Homo sapiens: one gene and its partners. The gene in region 1 interacts genetically with each later gene. Each region holds a gene or a part of one and is shown in the gene's direction. Other genes may lie near its edges.

Region 1 (5,519 bases):
TCCCCAGAGAACTTCTAGGTTGGCTGTGGAAATAGACACATAAATGCATCATTTTATTTCAGCCTGTTTGGGGCTAAGGAAAGGATTGCACAGAGGTTGCTACTCATAGGAGATGGGAGAAGTCTCCTTGTGGGTGGTTACAGCTGGTAGTAACAAGAGGACAATCTGGCTTCAACCATAACTCTAAGAGGTGGCATGTCTTTATTAAGGGCAAGGGAGTGGCACTGGAGTGCTGATTAATGCCTACTGGTTGGCAGACATTAATCAGAAAGCCTAAACATGCCCTGCCTTGTGAATTCCCGTTTCACTTTCCGGGCTCTACTGAAGTGTTCCTTCCTCTGGGAACATGAACACCAATGATATTTTGAGCCATTGTTATGCGTCAGATTTCGGGTTAACAGCTTTACAGATATCTCCTCTAATTCTCATAAATGCCTCATTTCACATGTGAGCAAACTGAGACTCAAGAAAGGGGAAGAGATTTCCCAAGAGTCTCAACTACTACCTTGGCAGCAGAGCAAGAATTTGAAACCTGGTCAGGTTCACTTTAAAAAAGGCTGTACTAGCCGGGCGCAGTGGCTCACACCTGTAATCCCAGTATTTTGGGAGGCTGAGGCGGGTGGATCACTTGAGGTCAGGGGTTTGAGACCAGCCTGGCTAAACCTTGTCTCTACTAAAAATACAAAAATTTAGCTGGGTGTAGTGGCACACACCTGTAGTCCCAGTTACTGGGGAGGCCAAGGCAGGAGAATCTCTTGAACCCGGGAGGTGGAGGTTGCAGTGAGCCGAGATCGCGCCACTGCACTCCAGCCTAGGCGACAGAGCCAGACTCCATCTCAAAAAATATATAAAAAATAAAATAAAAATAAAAAAGGCTGTATGGCCAGGCGAGGTGGCTAACCCCTGTAATCCTAGGCACTCTGGGAGGCCGAGGAGGGCGGATTGCTTGAGCCCAGGAGACCACCCTGGGCAACAGCTCTACAAAAAATAAACAAATTAGCCAGGCCTGGTGGCTTGTGCCTGTAGTTTCAGCTACTCGGGAGACTGAGGTGGGAGGGCTGCTTGAACCCGGGAAGCGGAGGTTTTGGTGGGCGGAGAGCGCGCCATGCCTTCCAGCCAGGGTGACAGAGCGAGACCCTGTCTGAAAAAAAAAATTAAAAAATAAAAAAAATAAATAAAGGCTGGGGCCAGGCGTGGTGGCTCACGCCTGTAATCCCAGCACTTTGGGAGGCCGAGGCGAGGGGATCACCTGAGCTGAGGAGTTCAAGATCAGCCTGGGCAACATGGCGAAACCCCGTCTCTACTAAAAATACAAAAAATTAGCCAGGCGTGGTGGTGCATGCCTGTAATCCCAGCTACTCAGCTACTCGGGAGGCTGGGGCAGGAGAATCGCTGAACCCGGGAGGCGGAGGTTGCAGTAAGCCGAGATCGCGACACTGCACTCCAGCCTGGCACCCTGGGCGACAGAATGAAGCTCTGTCTCAAAAAAAAAAAAAAAAAAAAAGGTGTAAATGCTCTTTGCAGTTCCATATACTGCCTCCCCAGAACCTTTATGGAGTTGGATTATAACTGCCTGAGCCCGCCCCTCCCGTCCATCTCGCGCTTTAAATTCCTCCGCGACGTGAGCCTCGGTTAATCGTCTTTGAAAACTCTGGCCCCTCCTCCCGTCAGCACCCCCAGACTACTGGCGCCCAGCTCAGAGTTGCCCAGATTGGGAGATCTGCAAGGTTTCCCGAAGGAATGAATGAACGAATGACTGAATGGACGAATTTGAGTCCTCCGTGTGCCATCTCTGGTAGCTGCCGCCCACGTTGGGCCTCGGTTTCCCCAACTGCGCGCCTACACCGTGACGCCGACCTCGCTATCAGGGGTGCCGTGAATGAGGCGAGCACTACAAGGCGGGGCTCCGGCCCTACCAGGCGGGGCGGGCAGTACCACGGCGTTCCTCGGGGGCGGGGGAGATGAGGCGGAGCCGGGGCTCCCCCGCTGCGGCGCCATTGGCCGCGCCCGCCGCCACCCGGCAGTAGTTGCGGAGGTCAGCCCCGCCTACTTCCTCTTTCCCTCGGAGCGGGCGGCGGCGTTGGCGGCTTGTGCAGCAATGGTGAGAGCTGCGGAATCGGGCGCCATCCGAGCGCTGTGAGGCGCGGGGGTTGGGGAAGGCGGTGCGGGCTGAGCCCGCGGATTCTATCTGCCACCTAGGCCTGTGGGGCGCCGCGCAGAATGGTCTGGCGCCACCACAACCCGCCTCTTCGCTTGGCGCCGGGAGAGGCGCGCGGCCCGGGCCTGGGTTACTCTGCCCAAGGCACGGCCGGCGAGGGAGACTGTCCTGAGCCCTGGTTGGGGCTCCGGCGCACTCGTAGTCGATGGCGAGTCGCGCGCCTTTGGGGGCTGGCCACGCAGGTGAAGGGGATATGGCCCCGCGGCCTGGCTGAGGCACACTCTCTCTTGCGCGCAGGCCAAGATCAAGGCTCGAGATCTTCGCGGGAAGAAGAAGGAGGAGCTGCTGAAACAGCTGGACGACCTGAAGGTGGAGCTGTCCCAGCTGCGCGTCGCCAAAGTGACAGGCGGTGCGGCCTCCAAGCTCTCTAAGATGTAAGTGAGGCGGCCGGATCACAGCCCTCGTGGGTGGGGAGCACGTGTGCATCGGGATCGTCGGAGGATTTCAAAGTTGGCTTAAGGAGCTGGCCGCTTAGATGCCCACTCCGTGCATCCTGGCGCGCATGGGAGACCCGTTGTGTGCTTAGCCTCTTACCTGCCTTGACCTTGCGGTCCTTGTGCCTGGAATGCATCCCCGGAGACCCATCTTAATGCTGCCTTCAAAGCCTACCCGGACCCCTTCCTTCCGCTTCCCACCAACACTTGAGTTTTTAACCCCCTTGGCAGGTGGGTGGCTTGCACCCTGGAGTGGCAGCGTAAGTTATTTTACATGGCTAAGAGTGCGGGAGACTTGTGAAAGGAACATGGGTTTGGAGTTCATCAACCTGGGTACAAAGTCCACTTCTCAAAAAAAAATTAGATGGGTGTGGTGGTACAGGCCTGTAGTCCCAGCTACTCTGGAGGCTGAGGCAGGAGGATCACTTGAGCCCAGGAGTTGGGAGGCTATGATGGGGCCACTGCTCTTCAGTCTGGTTGACAGGTGAGACCCTGTCTCCAAAAAAAAAAAATGGTGGTTGCCCTCTTTGCCCCCAAACAACCTTAGTAGAGGCAGGGGTGGGAGGATTGGACAAGCACAGTTGCACACTGAATCCTCAAAAACCATGTTGACCAGCTGTCTACTAGGTGACTCCCTCATCCTGACATGACTACAAATAACTTCTCCCTGGCTCGTTGTTTGCTTCAGTCTCCTGGCTTGTAGTGACTCCACTTTGCAAATGTCTTGTTTCTCTCTCCTGCAGTTCCCTAAGCTAGCCTGATTGCCTGGTTTGTGGCATGATTCCTTCCCATCAGCTCATTGAAATTGGCATTGGTTGGGTCTTAGCCCTCAGGATAAATTCGTGTTCTGGGATTGAAGGTCTTTTTCTGATCTGCCTCATTTATCCAGCCTGCACTTCCTCATAAAGCCTCTGCTGTCTCTCCCATGCCCCTCTCTTCCCTCCTCAGACCTCACTCCCAGAACGCCTTCCTCCTGAGTGAATATGGATGGGTTGATGGGGGAGGCTGCAGCTATTGCTGCCCTATGTGTGAGTCCTGAGTCTTGGGTAGTGCTATGTGTCTTCCCTATCTTCACTGACATCTCTGTTTTGTAGCCGAGTCGTCCGGAAATCCATTGCCCGTGTTCTCACAGTTATTAACCAGACTCAGAAAGAAAACCTCAGGAAATTCTACAAGGTGAGTCTGCCTGGACATAGGGAGGGTTGGCTGCAGGAAGCCAAGTGCTAGCCGTCCCTGGCCGGGGACATGGTAAAGAGGTTTTTCTTGGTGCGTGGGCTGAGAGTGGTTAGCCTTCCCAATTTGTTGCTGGGCTCACTCTTCTACCAGTGTCTTGCACTGGCACGTGGCTCTGCAGACCACTTCCTCAGGCTGCAGATGTCAAGAATTCATTGGGGCTTGGGGTGTCCTGGCTGGAGACTCAGTTTTTGAAACCAGCCTTCCCAGTTGAGTGGCTTGGGCAGTGATAGGACTGGCTGTTGAAGGTTTTCACTGCCTCTTACTGGCACTGGGTGTCAGTCCCTGCCAGGCACCTGCCATGCTCATTTTTCAGATGAGGGCCCTGAGGCCTAGACACCCACAGTCAATGGCATGATGGGCCCTGGTTCCAAACCTTACCTTGGGGAGGGTCGGCTTTAGTGTTCTGGGAGGTGTGCACAGGTGTCTGGCCCCCTCTTAGTCTTGAATTTTGATAACCATTTTCTGGTCTTGTCCTTAACATTCATCTTATTGGGGTTCAAGCAGAGAAAACTAGGGGGAGACGGTGTGTGCACATGCATCCAATGTATTCTGAAGAATGGGCATAGGTGATTGTGGGGGCTGGCTGGGACTCAGGGCTCAGGTTGAAGCTGCTGTTCCCAGTGGGTACTTGGAGGGAGCCTCAGCCCTGTGCTTAAGACTTACAGCTGATTGGATCGGGCCTTCTGGGATTACCCAGGATAATCTCCCCTAAAGTTACCTGATGAGGGTCTTTAATTTCATCTGCAAAATGGTTCCACATCACTACCCAAATTGTGTTTGAATAACTTGAAGATTTGACACAAGGGAAAAGCAGCCATGGCTGATGAAGTGCCACAGGCCTATAACCCCAGCTACTGGGAGGCCGAGGCAGGAGGATGGCTTGAGCCCAGGAGTTAAAGTGTAGCCTGGGCAACATAGTGAGGCCTCATCTCAAAAAAATGAGAAGGGCCATAGTGTGGCTATGTTAGCTGTTCAGGGGACACTAGCACGTGTGTGGCAAAAGTAAACCTTTAATGTCAGCAGCTACGTGTGTGGCTAGTGGCTGCTCTGTTGGACAGCAGAACTCTAGGGGGTTAGCCAATGTGAAAAGGACGAATGCCCAGCCGATGCCAGCAGGAGTGAGGGATGTGGGAGGACAAAGACTTTCCTGCTTCCAAGTACCCTCCAGGGCTGGCCCTCATTGTCCAGGATCTTTCTGCAGTCCTCTGCCCACCTGCAGGGGCCTGGGGCCCTGTGACCTCAGAATCCCCCATACCATGGGCCACTTGTTACCTGTTCAGTCTTCCCCCACTAGGCTGGGACCCCTGAGCAGGGACTGGGTCAGATCCTTTGCCAAGCCAGCTCCCAGCACAGGGCCCAGTCCTGAAGGGGGCCCAGGGGACCTTTGCAGAACACAGGAGAGACCAGTGAGAGCTGCCATGGTCTAGAACCCCCTGCTGGAGAACAAGTGGGGCAGGAGTGGGAGCCAAGGATGGAAAGACAGATGATGGCTCTGTGACAGCTGTGGGCAGGGGCCCCAAAGCCGGAAGCAGGTGGGGCAAGTGGCCTTGGCCAGCCAGGCCTCTGAGGCTGGACGTTCATACAGGCAGCAGCTGGTGGGCCCTGCATACAGATGGACAGAGTACTGCCTC
Region 2 (3,572 bases), on another chromosome or scaffold:
ATTATAGGAATACTTACACACCAGGCTGTAACTTAGTGTTGGTTTTGAAAATACGGAGTTAGAGACAACATTGTTATTCCCAGAGATAAAAAATTTGAAGTGGAATTTTACAAACCTTGGCTGGCATGGATAGGGGAGAGAAAAATTTGGAAAATTACTTTTAATTACTTCTACAGATTACCTATTTATTTATTTACTTACTTATTTAGAGGCAAGGCCTGGCTCTAACACCCAGGCTAGAGTGCAGTGGTGTGATCTCAGCTCACTGCAACCTCCGCCTCCTGGGCTCAAGCCATCCTCTGACCTCAGCCTCCTGAGTATCTGGGACTACAGGTGTGCACCTGTAGTGACTAATTTTTGTATTTTTGTCTAATTTTTGTAGAGACAGGGTTTCATCATGTTGCTTAGGCTGGCCTTGAACTTGTGAACTCAAGTGATCTGCCTGCCTGGGCATCCCAAAGTGCCCAGCCTCATTACCTTTTAATTAATTAATTAATTAATTAATTAATTTGAGACGGAGTCTTGCTCTGTCGCCTAGGTTGGAGTGCAGTGGTGCGATCTCGGCTCACTGCATCCTCTGCCTCTTGGGTTCAAGCAATTCTCTGACTCAGCCTCCTGAGTAGCTGGGATTCCAGGCACCCACCACCACACCTGGCTAATTTTTATATTTTTAGTAGAGATGGGGTTTCACCATCTTGGCCAGGCTGATCCTGAACTCCTGACCTCGTGATCCACCCGCCTCGGCCTCCCAAAGTGCTGGGATTACAGGCGTGAGCCACCATGCCCGGCCCAGATTACCTTTTATGAAATATTTTAACATGCAGAAGAGAATAGGACAAAATATAATGAACACTAACCCACTGCTCAGCTTTATCAGTTCTTCATTTTCTGCCGTATTTTTTCCCACCTTTTTATTTATTTTGAAAACGAAACCTCAGACACAAAGTTACCTTATTTATGAATGTCATGGTAATAATTTGTTTGCTCATAAATATTTGGGTATGTTATATTTGGTATTTTAGCACATAGTTTATTAAGAAATTTCTGAGTTTTTAGTTCTCTGAATTGCATAATAAGCTGCTGAGTTTTATGGAATCTGACGGCTTAATTTTATGGATCACATGGTGTATGTGTAAATGTGCTGCAGTTTGCAGTGTGTTAACAAAGCCCATTAAGCTGTTTGGACTTTATATCTATAGTTTCCAGCAGACAGAAAACAATGCCTGATTTGCATATAAACATTTAATTGTACTGCCTATAAGAAGTTCAGTAATATACTCACCTTAGGATTAATTAACTACAAACAGCTGCCTAGCCCCAGGAGATTTTGGGCTGGGTAATTTTGTTACTAAATTTTAATAAGAACCTAGTCATGATTTACATAGATTTCATACCAACACTATTTCAGTACTTTATGAACCTTTGTAATTGGAAAACTCTGATGCTAATCAGCAGGTACATAAAATCAATAGTTAAAATTCAGTAGCTGAAATTAGTTCCAGAATAAGTGTTATCCAAATGAGAAACTAGTTGCTGAAACTTCAGGATGGAAAAGTTGTTTAGATGGAAAATAAGAGAGATGCCTGATAAGGGGGAAAAAGCAAGTTGCACAATATGTGTAGTGTGCAGTTTTTATAAAACAGCACCCCTTTCCTGTTTTTTAGTTGTGTATGAGGTAGAGAAAAGTATAAAATGATGCTCTAAATTGGAAAATTTGGTAGGGGTGGGCTGGGGTTGGAAATGGGAGGGGTGAAGGGCCAGGTAAAATAGTTTCCTAGGGTGTTTGTTAATGATGCAGAATCCTGGGCTTCACAGCCTGAGTTGGAGTTTCAGAGTTAGTGTATCCAAGACCTAAGGTTCTACCTTTGTAACAGGTGCACCAGGTCATTTCTTTGTAGGTGGTCCTTATACTAGACTAATGCTGTAGAGGAGATTGCAGACTATTTCTCCTGATTCATCCATTTGTTTCTTACCTAAATCCTCATGGAAGTAGCATTTGTGGTCCTTTTACAAAAACCTATTTAGGTAAAAGTGATAAATGCACCTGTGGTTTAAAAAAAAAGCCTGAAGCTGGGCGTGGTGGTGGGCATCTATAATCCCAACTATTTGGGAGGCTGAGGCAGGAGAATGGCTTGAACCTGGGAGGCGGAGGTTGCAGTGAGCCGAGATCCAGCCACTGCACTCCAGCCTGGGCAACAAGAGCAAAACTCCGCCTCAAAAAAAGAAAAGAAAAGAAGATGCCCGAAGGGGGTGGGAGTGGGGCAAATGTAGATTAAATTTTTCAAAATATGAAACTACAAACAGAAACAAAAGTAGAGATCATAGTAAAAAGAACCACCCTGCTCATGTGAGGATATTTCTGGCTGCCTGGGCTGCTATAATGGTTTGGGGACAAAGTAACATCTGTGCATGTAGTGGTGCTGTGTAACACAACACACTATAATAATTTTGAGATCCGATCACAACTGGGGCTGCTAAACTCAGCATTAAAACTATTCTATCATTTTGAGTTTCTTTCTTTCTGTTTGTTTCTGAGACAGTCTCTCTCTCATCCAGGCTGGAGTGCAGTGGCAGCAATCGTGGCTTACTGCAGCCTTGACCTCCTGGGCTCAAACAGTCCTCCCACCTGAGCCCCCTAAGTGGCAGGGGACTATAGGTTTGCCACCATACCTGGCTAATTTTAGTATTTTTTGTAGAGATAGGGTTTTGCCATGTCGCCCAGGCTGGTTTTGAACTCCTGGGCTCAAGTGATCCGCCCACCTCAGCCTTCCAAAGTGTTTGGATGACATGCGTGAGCTACCGCGTCTGCCTCCAGTTTGTGAGACGTGCTCCTGTTCCTTTCTTATGTGGAAATGTGACCCAGCCGTGCCTTAGACTAGATAAGGACATTTTGTTATCCTGCACATCTATCTTGAGGAACTATAGAGGGCTTTCTCCCTTAGCTGGGGGGGTGGGAGGTTTTGCAAATACAGGATGCTATTTGAATCTTTATCTTTTGATTCATGCAGCTAGCAATTGAGCTTTTTTATTTTTTATTTGATTTATTTATCTATTTATTTTTTGAGACGGAGTTTCGCTCTTGTCGCCCAGGCTGGAGTGCAATGGCGTGATCTCGACTTACTGCAACCTCCACCTTCCGGGTTCATGTGATTCTCCTGCCTCAGCCTCCCGAGTAGCTGGGATTACAGGCGCCTGCCACCATGCCCGGCTAATTTTTGTATTTTTAGTAGAGACGGGGTTTTAGCACATTGGCCAGGCTGGTCTTGAACTCCTGACCTCAGGTGATCTGCCCACCTCGGCCTCCCGAAGTGCTGGGATTGCAGGTGTGAGCCACTGCGCCCGGCCTAATTTTTATTCATTTATTTATTTATTTGAGATGAGTTTTGCTCTTTGCCCAGGCTAAAGTGCAGTGGCACGTGATCTCGGCTCACTGCAGCCTTGGCCTCCCGGGTTCAAGCAGTTCTGCCTCAGCCTCCTGAGTAGCTGGGACTAGAGGCGTGCGCCATTACACCTGGCTAACTTTGTATTTTTACTGGAGAGGAGGTTTCACCATCTTGGCTAGGCTGGTCTCG
Region 3 (4,261 bases), on another chromosome or scaffold:
GCCTCAGGAAGCTGACAATCAAGGTGGAAGGTGAAGGGGAAGCAGACACATCCTACAAGGCTGGAGGAGGAGGAAGAGACAGAGTGGGGAGGTGCCACACACTTTTAAACAACCAGGTCTTATGAGAAGTCACTCACTATCACAAGAACAGCTGGGGATTATAATTCCACATCATATTTGGGCAGGCAATTCAAACATATCAGTGGCATTTACATTTTTGCAAAAATCCAAACCATATCAGTGGCATTTACATTTTTGCAATTTTTTTTTTTTTTTGAGACAGGGCCTCACTCTTGCCCAGGCTGGAGTGCAGTGGCATGATCTCAGCTCACTGCTGCCTCAACCTCCCAGGCTCAAGCAGATCCTCCAACCTTAGCCTCCCAAGCAGCTGAGACTACAGGTGCATGCCACCAAGCCAAAGGGATTTATATTTATCTATAAATTCATATATAAATCAGATATATTTATATAAAATGTGTATATTATATATATAAATCAGATAAATAAATATGTATTTATATCTGATCTTAAAAGAGTAAAAGGGATTTATATTCCCAGGAAGAAGTAGAAAAGAGGAATATAGATAGTGGTTAAGAACCGGCATTTTGCAATAAGTCTGATCTAGATAGGAATTCTAGCTTTAATATTTACTAGCTCTGTGATCTTGGGAAAATTATTTACAGTTTGTGAACTTCAGTTTCCCTTCTACAAAATAGAGACAGTACCATTTAATTTTTAATTTTTAATGGTATCGTCTCCATTTTATGGAAGGAAAACTAAATGGTATTTTAACCGACAATTCATTAATTTTTAAGACTGACCATTAACAGAGATACTGCATGTAAAGCAGATCACACAGAATATGGCACACTTGAGCACTTGATGTGTACTACATTACTCTTAGTGACGACTTTAATTATCGTGCGCATTCCCAGCGCTTCCTATGGTGCCCAACACAGAGCGGACGCCTAGAGACAATTTTGGGGGATGGGGCAGATGCTCTGCCTCGGGAAAAAAAAAGCACACCTGCCCTGACGTTGGTGGCTGGGTCTGGAAGATACGTGGAAATTAAGCTAAGGATGTGTGGCTTCCAGATCAAAAACCGCAAAAATCTAACGCCGTGACTACTGACTACGGTCAGAGAGCACAGACTGGAGCAACCTCTCACGGCCTGGGCTGTCTGCGCGTGCGTGAGCCAGAAACCCGAGGGGCTCCCTGGGCCCGCCCTATCGATCGACCCGATCGGGGATCGTCAGCTTGGTTCTGGCCACAGAGGTTGCTCTTCTCGCGATGCTTCAGACCTGGCGGCAGGGAAAGGGTGGGCTAATTGGAGAGCCAGGAAGAGCGTGAGGCGGCCCCACGCTGCTTTCCCAGAAGGCTGTGCGTGCTCCTCGCTTCCTCCGCGGTCTTCCGAGCGGTCGCGTGAACTGCTTCCTGCAGGCTGGCCATGGCGCTTCACGTTCCCAAGGCTCCGGGCTTTGCCCAGATGCTCAAGGAGGGAGCGAAAGTAAGGGCTGAAGGAAAGGAATGAGGTGGGAGCGTCAGCATAGGGCTGCGGCGGCCGCGGCGAAGTAGGAGGGCCTACTAACGGGCTGAGCGTGCTGCCCTGGCTCAGCGGCCGGGGGAAGAGAAGATTCCAGAAAGGGAGGTGATTTTGGAAGGGCTCGGCCACCGGAGCCTGCGGGCACTTCTCTTCTTCCGCGACCGGGAGAAGGCCGAGGGATCGGCGGCACGATCGACATTGTACACCTTGAAGGTGGACGGATGTGAAGCCGCGCGTGCGTTTTGCCTCCATCCGTAAATGGGGCTAAGGCCCGTCACCCTTAAAGGAGGTTGTGAGGGTGAAATTGAATAACGTAGATGAAATTGTCTTGAGAACTGCGACGTCGATTATCACATAGCTCGCGAGTTGTAGGATGGGGAAGAACGAGAACTAGCCGATCCAGAGAAGAGAGTGGGAAAAAGGGCCGGGTCTTGGTTGCTTGCTTCCCAGTGAGAAACATACGGCTTTCAGCTTAGTTGACAGAAGCCATGCGTTGTAGCCAAATGAGTTCCGGTCCCAACTTATGTTAGCTGGCTTAATCTAAAATGTAACTTTCTTGGGTTTTGTTTCCTTCGTCTTTAAATTATGGAGATTGGACCAAGAGGTGGTGTCTTTGAGTTCTGTGTAATCTGCAGGATAAGTGATAGAGGGGTGCAGATAACACTTTTGTTTAATGGCCTTTTCTTGAACGTTAGTTCGGTAGCATAGTTTTAAAAAATATCTTACTGCACTATTGATAAATTTGTCTCTTGTGCTATTCAAATTGCATTCCTCTGTGTGTCCTCCAGATTTTGTTAATTCAAGAAATAGATCAGTGTGGTTGAATTTAAGGTTTTATGCGAGGTACGGGGAGCATTAACAGTTTAATAGAACTAGGTTCATGTTTGTAGGATGCACTTTTCAAATAATGTCGGTATAGTAAGTAAATGTCAGGGTTCAAGGTAAATGTTGGTGGAATAATCTTTTGAAAATGATATGGGCTGATTCCCTTGAAAAAATCAGGCTGAGATAATAGCTTCCAATTTGGGTTTTTTTCACTAATACAGTTTTGGAAAACTCGTGTATCACAAAACATTATTTGTCATTCCAGTGCTAGTAGTTTTTTACAGAACACTGAGCTATTTCTTTCAATAAATAGGTACTGAAGGAACTGCAGTGAAAGACAAAAGTCCCATTTGTCGTAGAGTTTATGTCCTTCTAAGGCAGAAATAATGATTAAATAAAAGGAGAATTCCAAATAATGATGAAAGAAACTGCACTATAGTAGAGGATGACAGGAGGTAAAAATGTCTGTAAAAGAAGGATCAGGAATAGACAGAACACTTAGACGTTTAGGGAAGAACTCTTAGCTCAGTGCTTAGTGAGAGAAGCCCCTGAGCCTGGGCTGTTTCCCCCGACCTCTTACTTAGGGGGAAATGCCAGGCTCAGGGACTAACTAGTACAAAGACCCTGAGGAAGGAATGATTTTGACCTGTTTTTTTTTTAAAACAACAACAACAACAACAGGTTGTAGGGCTGAAGCTTACCAAAGAAAGGAAGAATGGTAAGTTCAGAGGAGGAGCCATACAAGGGCCGGGATACGTAGGGCCTTGTTTCCTTGAAAAGGGATTTGCATTTTATCCTAAGCTGGTTGGGAAACCATTGAAGGGTCTTAAGTATGGGAATGAGGGGATCTGATCAAATGGTAGTTTCTCACAGAATGGGGAGTGAGGGGAAGAAGCAAGAGTGTAAGCCAGGAGTTCAGACTTAAGTGTTATTGCTGGAATAACAGTTCTTATTGCTGAAGATGCTTTTAAAGCAGTGGCTATTGGCAGGGGTTGGTGGCTCACACCTGTAATCCCAACACTGGGGAGGCCGAGGTCAGTGGATCACTTGAGGCCAGGAGTTCCTGGCCAACATGGTGAAACTCCGCCTCTCAAAAAAATACAAAAAAAACCAACCTGGTGTGGCGCGCACCTCTAATCCCAGCTACTCAGGAGGCTGAGCCTCCAGAATTGCTTGAACCCGGGAGGCCCAGGTTGCAGTGAGCTGAGATCGTGCCACGATCTCAGCTCACTGCACTCCAGCCTGAGCGATAGAGGAGACTCTCTCTCTCTCAAAAAAGAGTAATGGCTATTAACCTTGGTTTTGGATCACAAAATCATGGCTTGTATTGTAAAGCAGTACTATGTAAATAGAACTTTTTGCAGTGCTGGACATACGCTGTATCAGCGCTGTCCAGTGTGATATTCACTACCCACATGTAGCTACTGGGCATTTGAACTGTGGCTCCTGCAATTGAGGAACTGAATTTTTTAATTTTAATTACTTGAAAGTTTATTTTGATTGCTTTCACTAGCCCCATGTATGTAGCTAGTGGCTACTGTATTGGGCAGCGCTTCTCTAAAGAAATGTTCTCATGCACAGTAGATTAGTGAAATATATCTGAGGACCCAAGTAAACCTCAACTCTAAAAAAGTCCAGTGTAGAATTTGTGAGAATTTTTAGTACCGTGAGCAGTTCGCTTTTCAATACATATACATTGGGATAATGTTGCAATTCAAAAAAAGTATTCAGTCTCTAAACACTTCAGTGGCACATACTTAAAGAACTTCTGGCTTTACAAAAGCCCAGATTCTAACACAATAAGAATATTCCACATTTCAACAGTTAGTTAGAAAATACTGATAAATTCTGGAAAGGTATTCTACTTGAAGTACCTCATACCCTTTCTCTAAT
Region 4 (3,572 bases), on another chromosome or scaffold:
ACTTCTATATACATTTCCAGGATGGAAAGTTGGAGTGACAGCTCTTCAGCAGGTTAGTATTTTTCTGTTAAGTCAAAGAGGAACAAAGTTAATAGGAAAATCCTTCAGTTTCAGGAATCAATCATAATTTTAGACGTAAAGACGAAACAATATATAGCTTAGTTTACCTTTAAAATTGTTAGCCTGAGGAAATAGTGTTTTGGAAATGTAAGTTAAAACAAGTAATAATGCCTTTGCCAATAACACTTATTGGAGTCCTTTGTGCTTATAGTTTGACTTAAATCTGTGGTTGCTATGGATCCTTGTTTCTAATCATTTTGCAAGTATATGTAGTCCATTGTCTTGTGTAGACTGGAAATGAGTGTTCAGCAATGCAAGCGGTATTGTAAGTCATGTAGAGAAATTTGTCAAGATGTTGAGATTTATGGTTTGAAGTAATTGGAGCCAAAATCCTAATGTTTGATTCGATGATGGACTATTTAAGAAATAACTGCTTTTTTTTAATGAATCTGCAAAATATGTATAAATAAATGAATGCATGTCTACAGCGAATCTTGTGTTTATATTGGCCACATATGTAGCCACTATACCCTTATCTTTTTCAGTATCCATTGTCTATACTTGCCCAATTTATATGTATTCCTTATCTTCTCTTGCTGTCATCAGCCTAGCTCCACTTTTGCCTATCCAGAAGACTCCATAAGTATCAGAGGATTAGGACCCTTGAGGACAAGGGATTATATCTGTTTTAGTATCTCCAATTTCTACACAGGGTCTCATGCATAGTAGACACTTGATGACAAATTAATAAAACGTGTAGCCTGATTCCATTCTATAATGATATTGGACATTGATCTTTGCTAAAATAGAGAAATTCATAATAGAGCCTGTATGTAAGACTTGTATTATAGACCATTATAACCATAGAATATTAGAACTGGAACAGACTAATTGTAAAACTTTTTTTGCCTTTTCACATGTTTTGTAGGTTTTTCCTACTTTCTTGGATAAGCAATTCTTCACTTCCTTTGTAATTGGTTACATGTTGCCACACATAGCGCAAGCCTTTATGTTTTCTAGTTGTCTCCTTTTTCTGTTTCCATCCAGTCCAGTGATCTGTAGTGATTTTATACATAGCTTTCTTTTTCTGTTGTGGTTGTTTTCTTTCCAAAATCTTACCAGCTAGGTTTTGGGAATGAGGATGGGATGTTGACTGGCAGAATTGAAGCTGGGAAGTAATTTGGAAAAATCATTACTGAATACTTCTATGCTGAATAAAAAAGTATGCTTGAATGGTAATACTTGCTGAGTTTTTCTGCCATCTTTTAGAAGATACTTCATTATTTCTTTTGATAACACCTAATAATGATGCGTATCATCAGGATTATTAAAGCTATTTTGCTTAAGAAAGTAAAAGTTTGAATAATTTAATTTTTAGGCACCAGCCGTGGATGTTGTTGCTATTGGTCTTATGTCAGGTCAAGTTATCATTCACAACATTAAATTTAATGAAACATTAATGAAGTTTCGTCAAGACTGGGGACCCATTACTTCAATTTCATTTCGCACAGGTAACTTTTAACATACTTATTGATAGGAGTTAAGAACACTTAAAATTCATTACTTTAAAAGTCAATTTTTTTTGTCTTCTGGTAGCTTAATCTAATAGAAGTGAATGAATACTGGAGTAAAAGGCAAAGAAATATGAATAGATTATTGGTATATAGTTTTTTTCTAACTTTATGGATTAAAAGGGAAGAGAGAAGAATTCTTGTTTATTTTGGGGGATCTAGAAGTATTTTTCTTAATGTATTTTATTTTAATAACAGATGGTCATCCAGTAATGGCAGCTGGAAGCCCATGTGGCCATATTGGACTCTGGGATCTAGAAGACAAAAAATTAATCAACCAAATGAGAAATGCACACTCTACAGCAATTGCCGGACTGACATTTCTCCATAGAGAGCCACTTCTTGTCACAAATGGCGCTGACAATGCTCTTAGGGTATTATGATTATTGTTAACATCTTCCTGGCTCATCTAACTTACCCTTTGGGTTATTACAAGCTTGTTTTAATGTATCAGCTTTCAACCTAGAAGATGAAAGGAATATGGAATGAGATATTGGTATAGATGAAACAAAAAGCACAGCAGGTGACATGATTGCAGTGAAGCGGGAAAGAATTACAGTTTATTTCTCCCCCAATACCCACTCCCTCCCTTGTAGCTCCAGAGTCAGTGGCTTAGCAAGCACTACTCAATACCAGTTGATTTATGTAGGGGGTGATTTGACTGCTTGCAGATCAGATGGAACATTGTAGAAGAACTGACGTTTTTATTTCTTGGCAGATATGGATATTTGATGGTCCTACAGGTGAAGGCCGACTTTTGAGATTCAGAATGGGTCATAGTGCTCCTCTTACCAATATCAGATATTATGGACAGAATGGACAGCAGATTCTAAGTGCAAGTGAGCTTCTGCTTCATACTATTAGTTTATTTCAGCAAGTATTGAGATGTGGGTGCCCAGTATGAGGTTTGATATTTACACATACTTAGATTCACATATCTCTTTGAGTGACTTAGAAGTCTGGGTAAAACTAAGAGTCCTTTTTGTCTACTTGAGAAGCACTATAGATGTTATTATCTATGCTTAATGTGTCCTTCTATTTACTAATCCTCAGAGACAGAATGGTTAGATTCTAAAAATTCTGTTAGTCTGCTGAAAATTATTAGTACCTCATTTTCATTTTATCCTTTGTTCTTACTAAATGGCATTCTATAAAAAGTTGAATATTTTAATGAAGTAGTTGCAATCTGGTTTTCCCTTTAAAGTGTCCCAAACTGTAACTTCAAGATTTTCAAATTGAATTTTATAAAATTTGTGATTCACATAGTCCCTTGTTTTAATGAAGCTTGATTAGGGATTTTCTGTGTATATCAACAGGTCAAGATGGAACTCTTCAGTCATTTTCCACGGTACATGAAAAATTCAATAAGAGCTTGGGACATGGTAGGTCCTCTACAAGACAAAATAAGCTGGTCACGAAAGAAACATTTCAACATTCTATGAAACAACTGGAGGAAGTTTCATCAATGCATTTTATTTTTTCTTGGATGAACTAGATAAACATGTATGGAAGAGGTAGTAAGATTCCTAGCATCAAAGTTGCTATAGAAGTGATTGAGGTTCTGCTATAAGGTTATTGAAAAAAGTTAGACATCTTGGGTGGTAAAAACATACTGCTGCCACCCAAAAGATGTTCATGGCCTCACTTGAGCTATCTGTAGAGTGCACAGTTTTTAAAATGGAAGGTAGCTTAGAGAAAGCATCAAAGTAAGTGGCATCCAATATTTTTGCTTTAAAGCAATCATTTATTCTCTTTCCCTTTTCATGGTTTCCAGCCTTTGAAAGATTTTGTTTATTAAACAACAAAATCTTACTTGGTTTTATGATTACTAATTTTTAAGTTACTATCTTATACTGTTCATGCATGTATATAAATTTTAAGATTATTTTTAACAATATCTAAAATAACTTTTCTTAGAATTAAAAAATAACAGTGGTAATA

The links.
Region 2: changes in RPL35 (region 1) and SF3B1 together harm fitness less than expected from each alone (positive genetic interaction), as found in Homo sapiens cells (one large-scale study listed by BioGRID).
Region 3: changes in RPL35 (region 1) and CCT8 together harm fitness less than expected from each alone (positive genetic interaction), as found in Homo sapiens cells (one large-scale study listed by BioGRID).
Region 4: changes in RPL35 (region 1) and WDR36 together harm fitness less than expected from each alone (positive genetic interaction), as found in Homo sapiens cells (one large-scale study listed by BioGRID).

What each region holds. Positions count from the first base shown.
Region 1 is NC_000009.12:124,858,492-124,864,010, reverse strand, and holds the start of RPL35 (large ribosomal subunit protein uL29), read left to right. Parts: upstream 1-2,053; 5' UTR 2,054-2,098; coding exon 2,099-2,101; intron 2,102-2,455; coding exon 2,456-2,592; intron 2,593-3,746; coding exon 3,747-3,828; intron 3,829-5,519.
Region 2 is NC_000002.12:197,424,957-197,428,528, reverse strand, and holds part of SF3B1 (splicing factor 3B subunit 1), read left to right. Parts: intron 1-3,572. UniProt on the Homo sapiens protein: Component of the 17S U2 SnRNP complex of the spliceosome, a large ribonucleoprotein complex that removes introns from transcribed pre-mRNAs.
Region 3 is NC_000021.9:29,070,777-29,075,037, reverse strand, and holds the start of CCT8 (T-complex protein 1 subunit theta), read left to right. Parts: upstream 1-1,389; 5' UTR 1,390-1,447; coding exon 1,448-1,507; exon of another isoform or gene 1,508-3,083; coding exon of another isoform or gene 3,084-3,086; intron 3,087-4,261. UniProt on the Homo sapiens protein: Component of the chaperonin-containing T-complex (TRiC), a molecular chaperone complex that assists the folding of actin, tubulin and other proteins upon ATP hydrolysis.
Region 4 is NC_000005.10:111,102,348-111,105,919, forward strand, and holds part of WDR36 (WD repeat-containing protein 36), read left to right. Parts: coding exon 1-52; intron 53-1,438; coding exon 1,439-1,571; intron 1,572-1,829; coding exon 1,830-2,005; intron 2,006-2,349; coding exon 2,350-2,470; intron 2,471-2,947; coding exon 2,948-3,013; intron 3,014-3,572. UniProt on the Homo sapiens protein: Part of the small subunit (SSU) processome, first precursor of the small eukaryotic ribosomal subunit.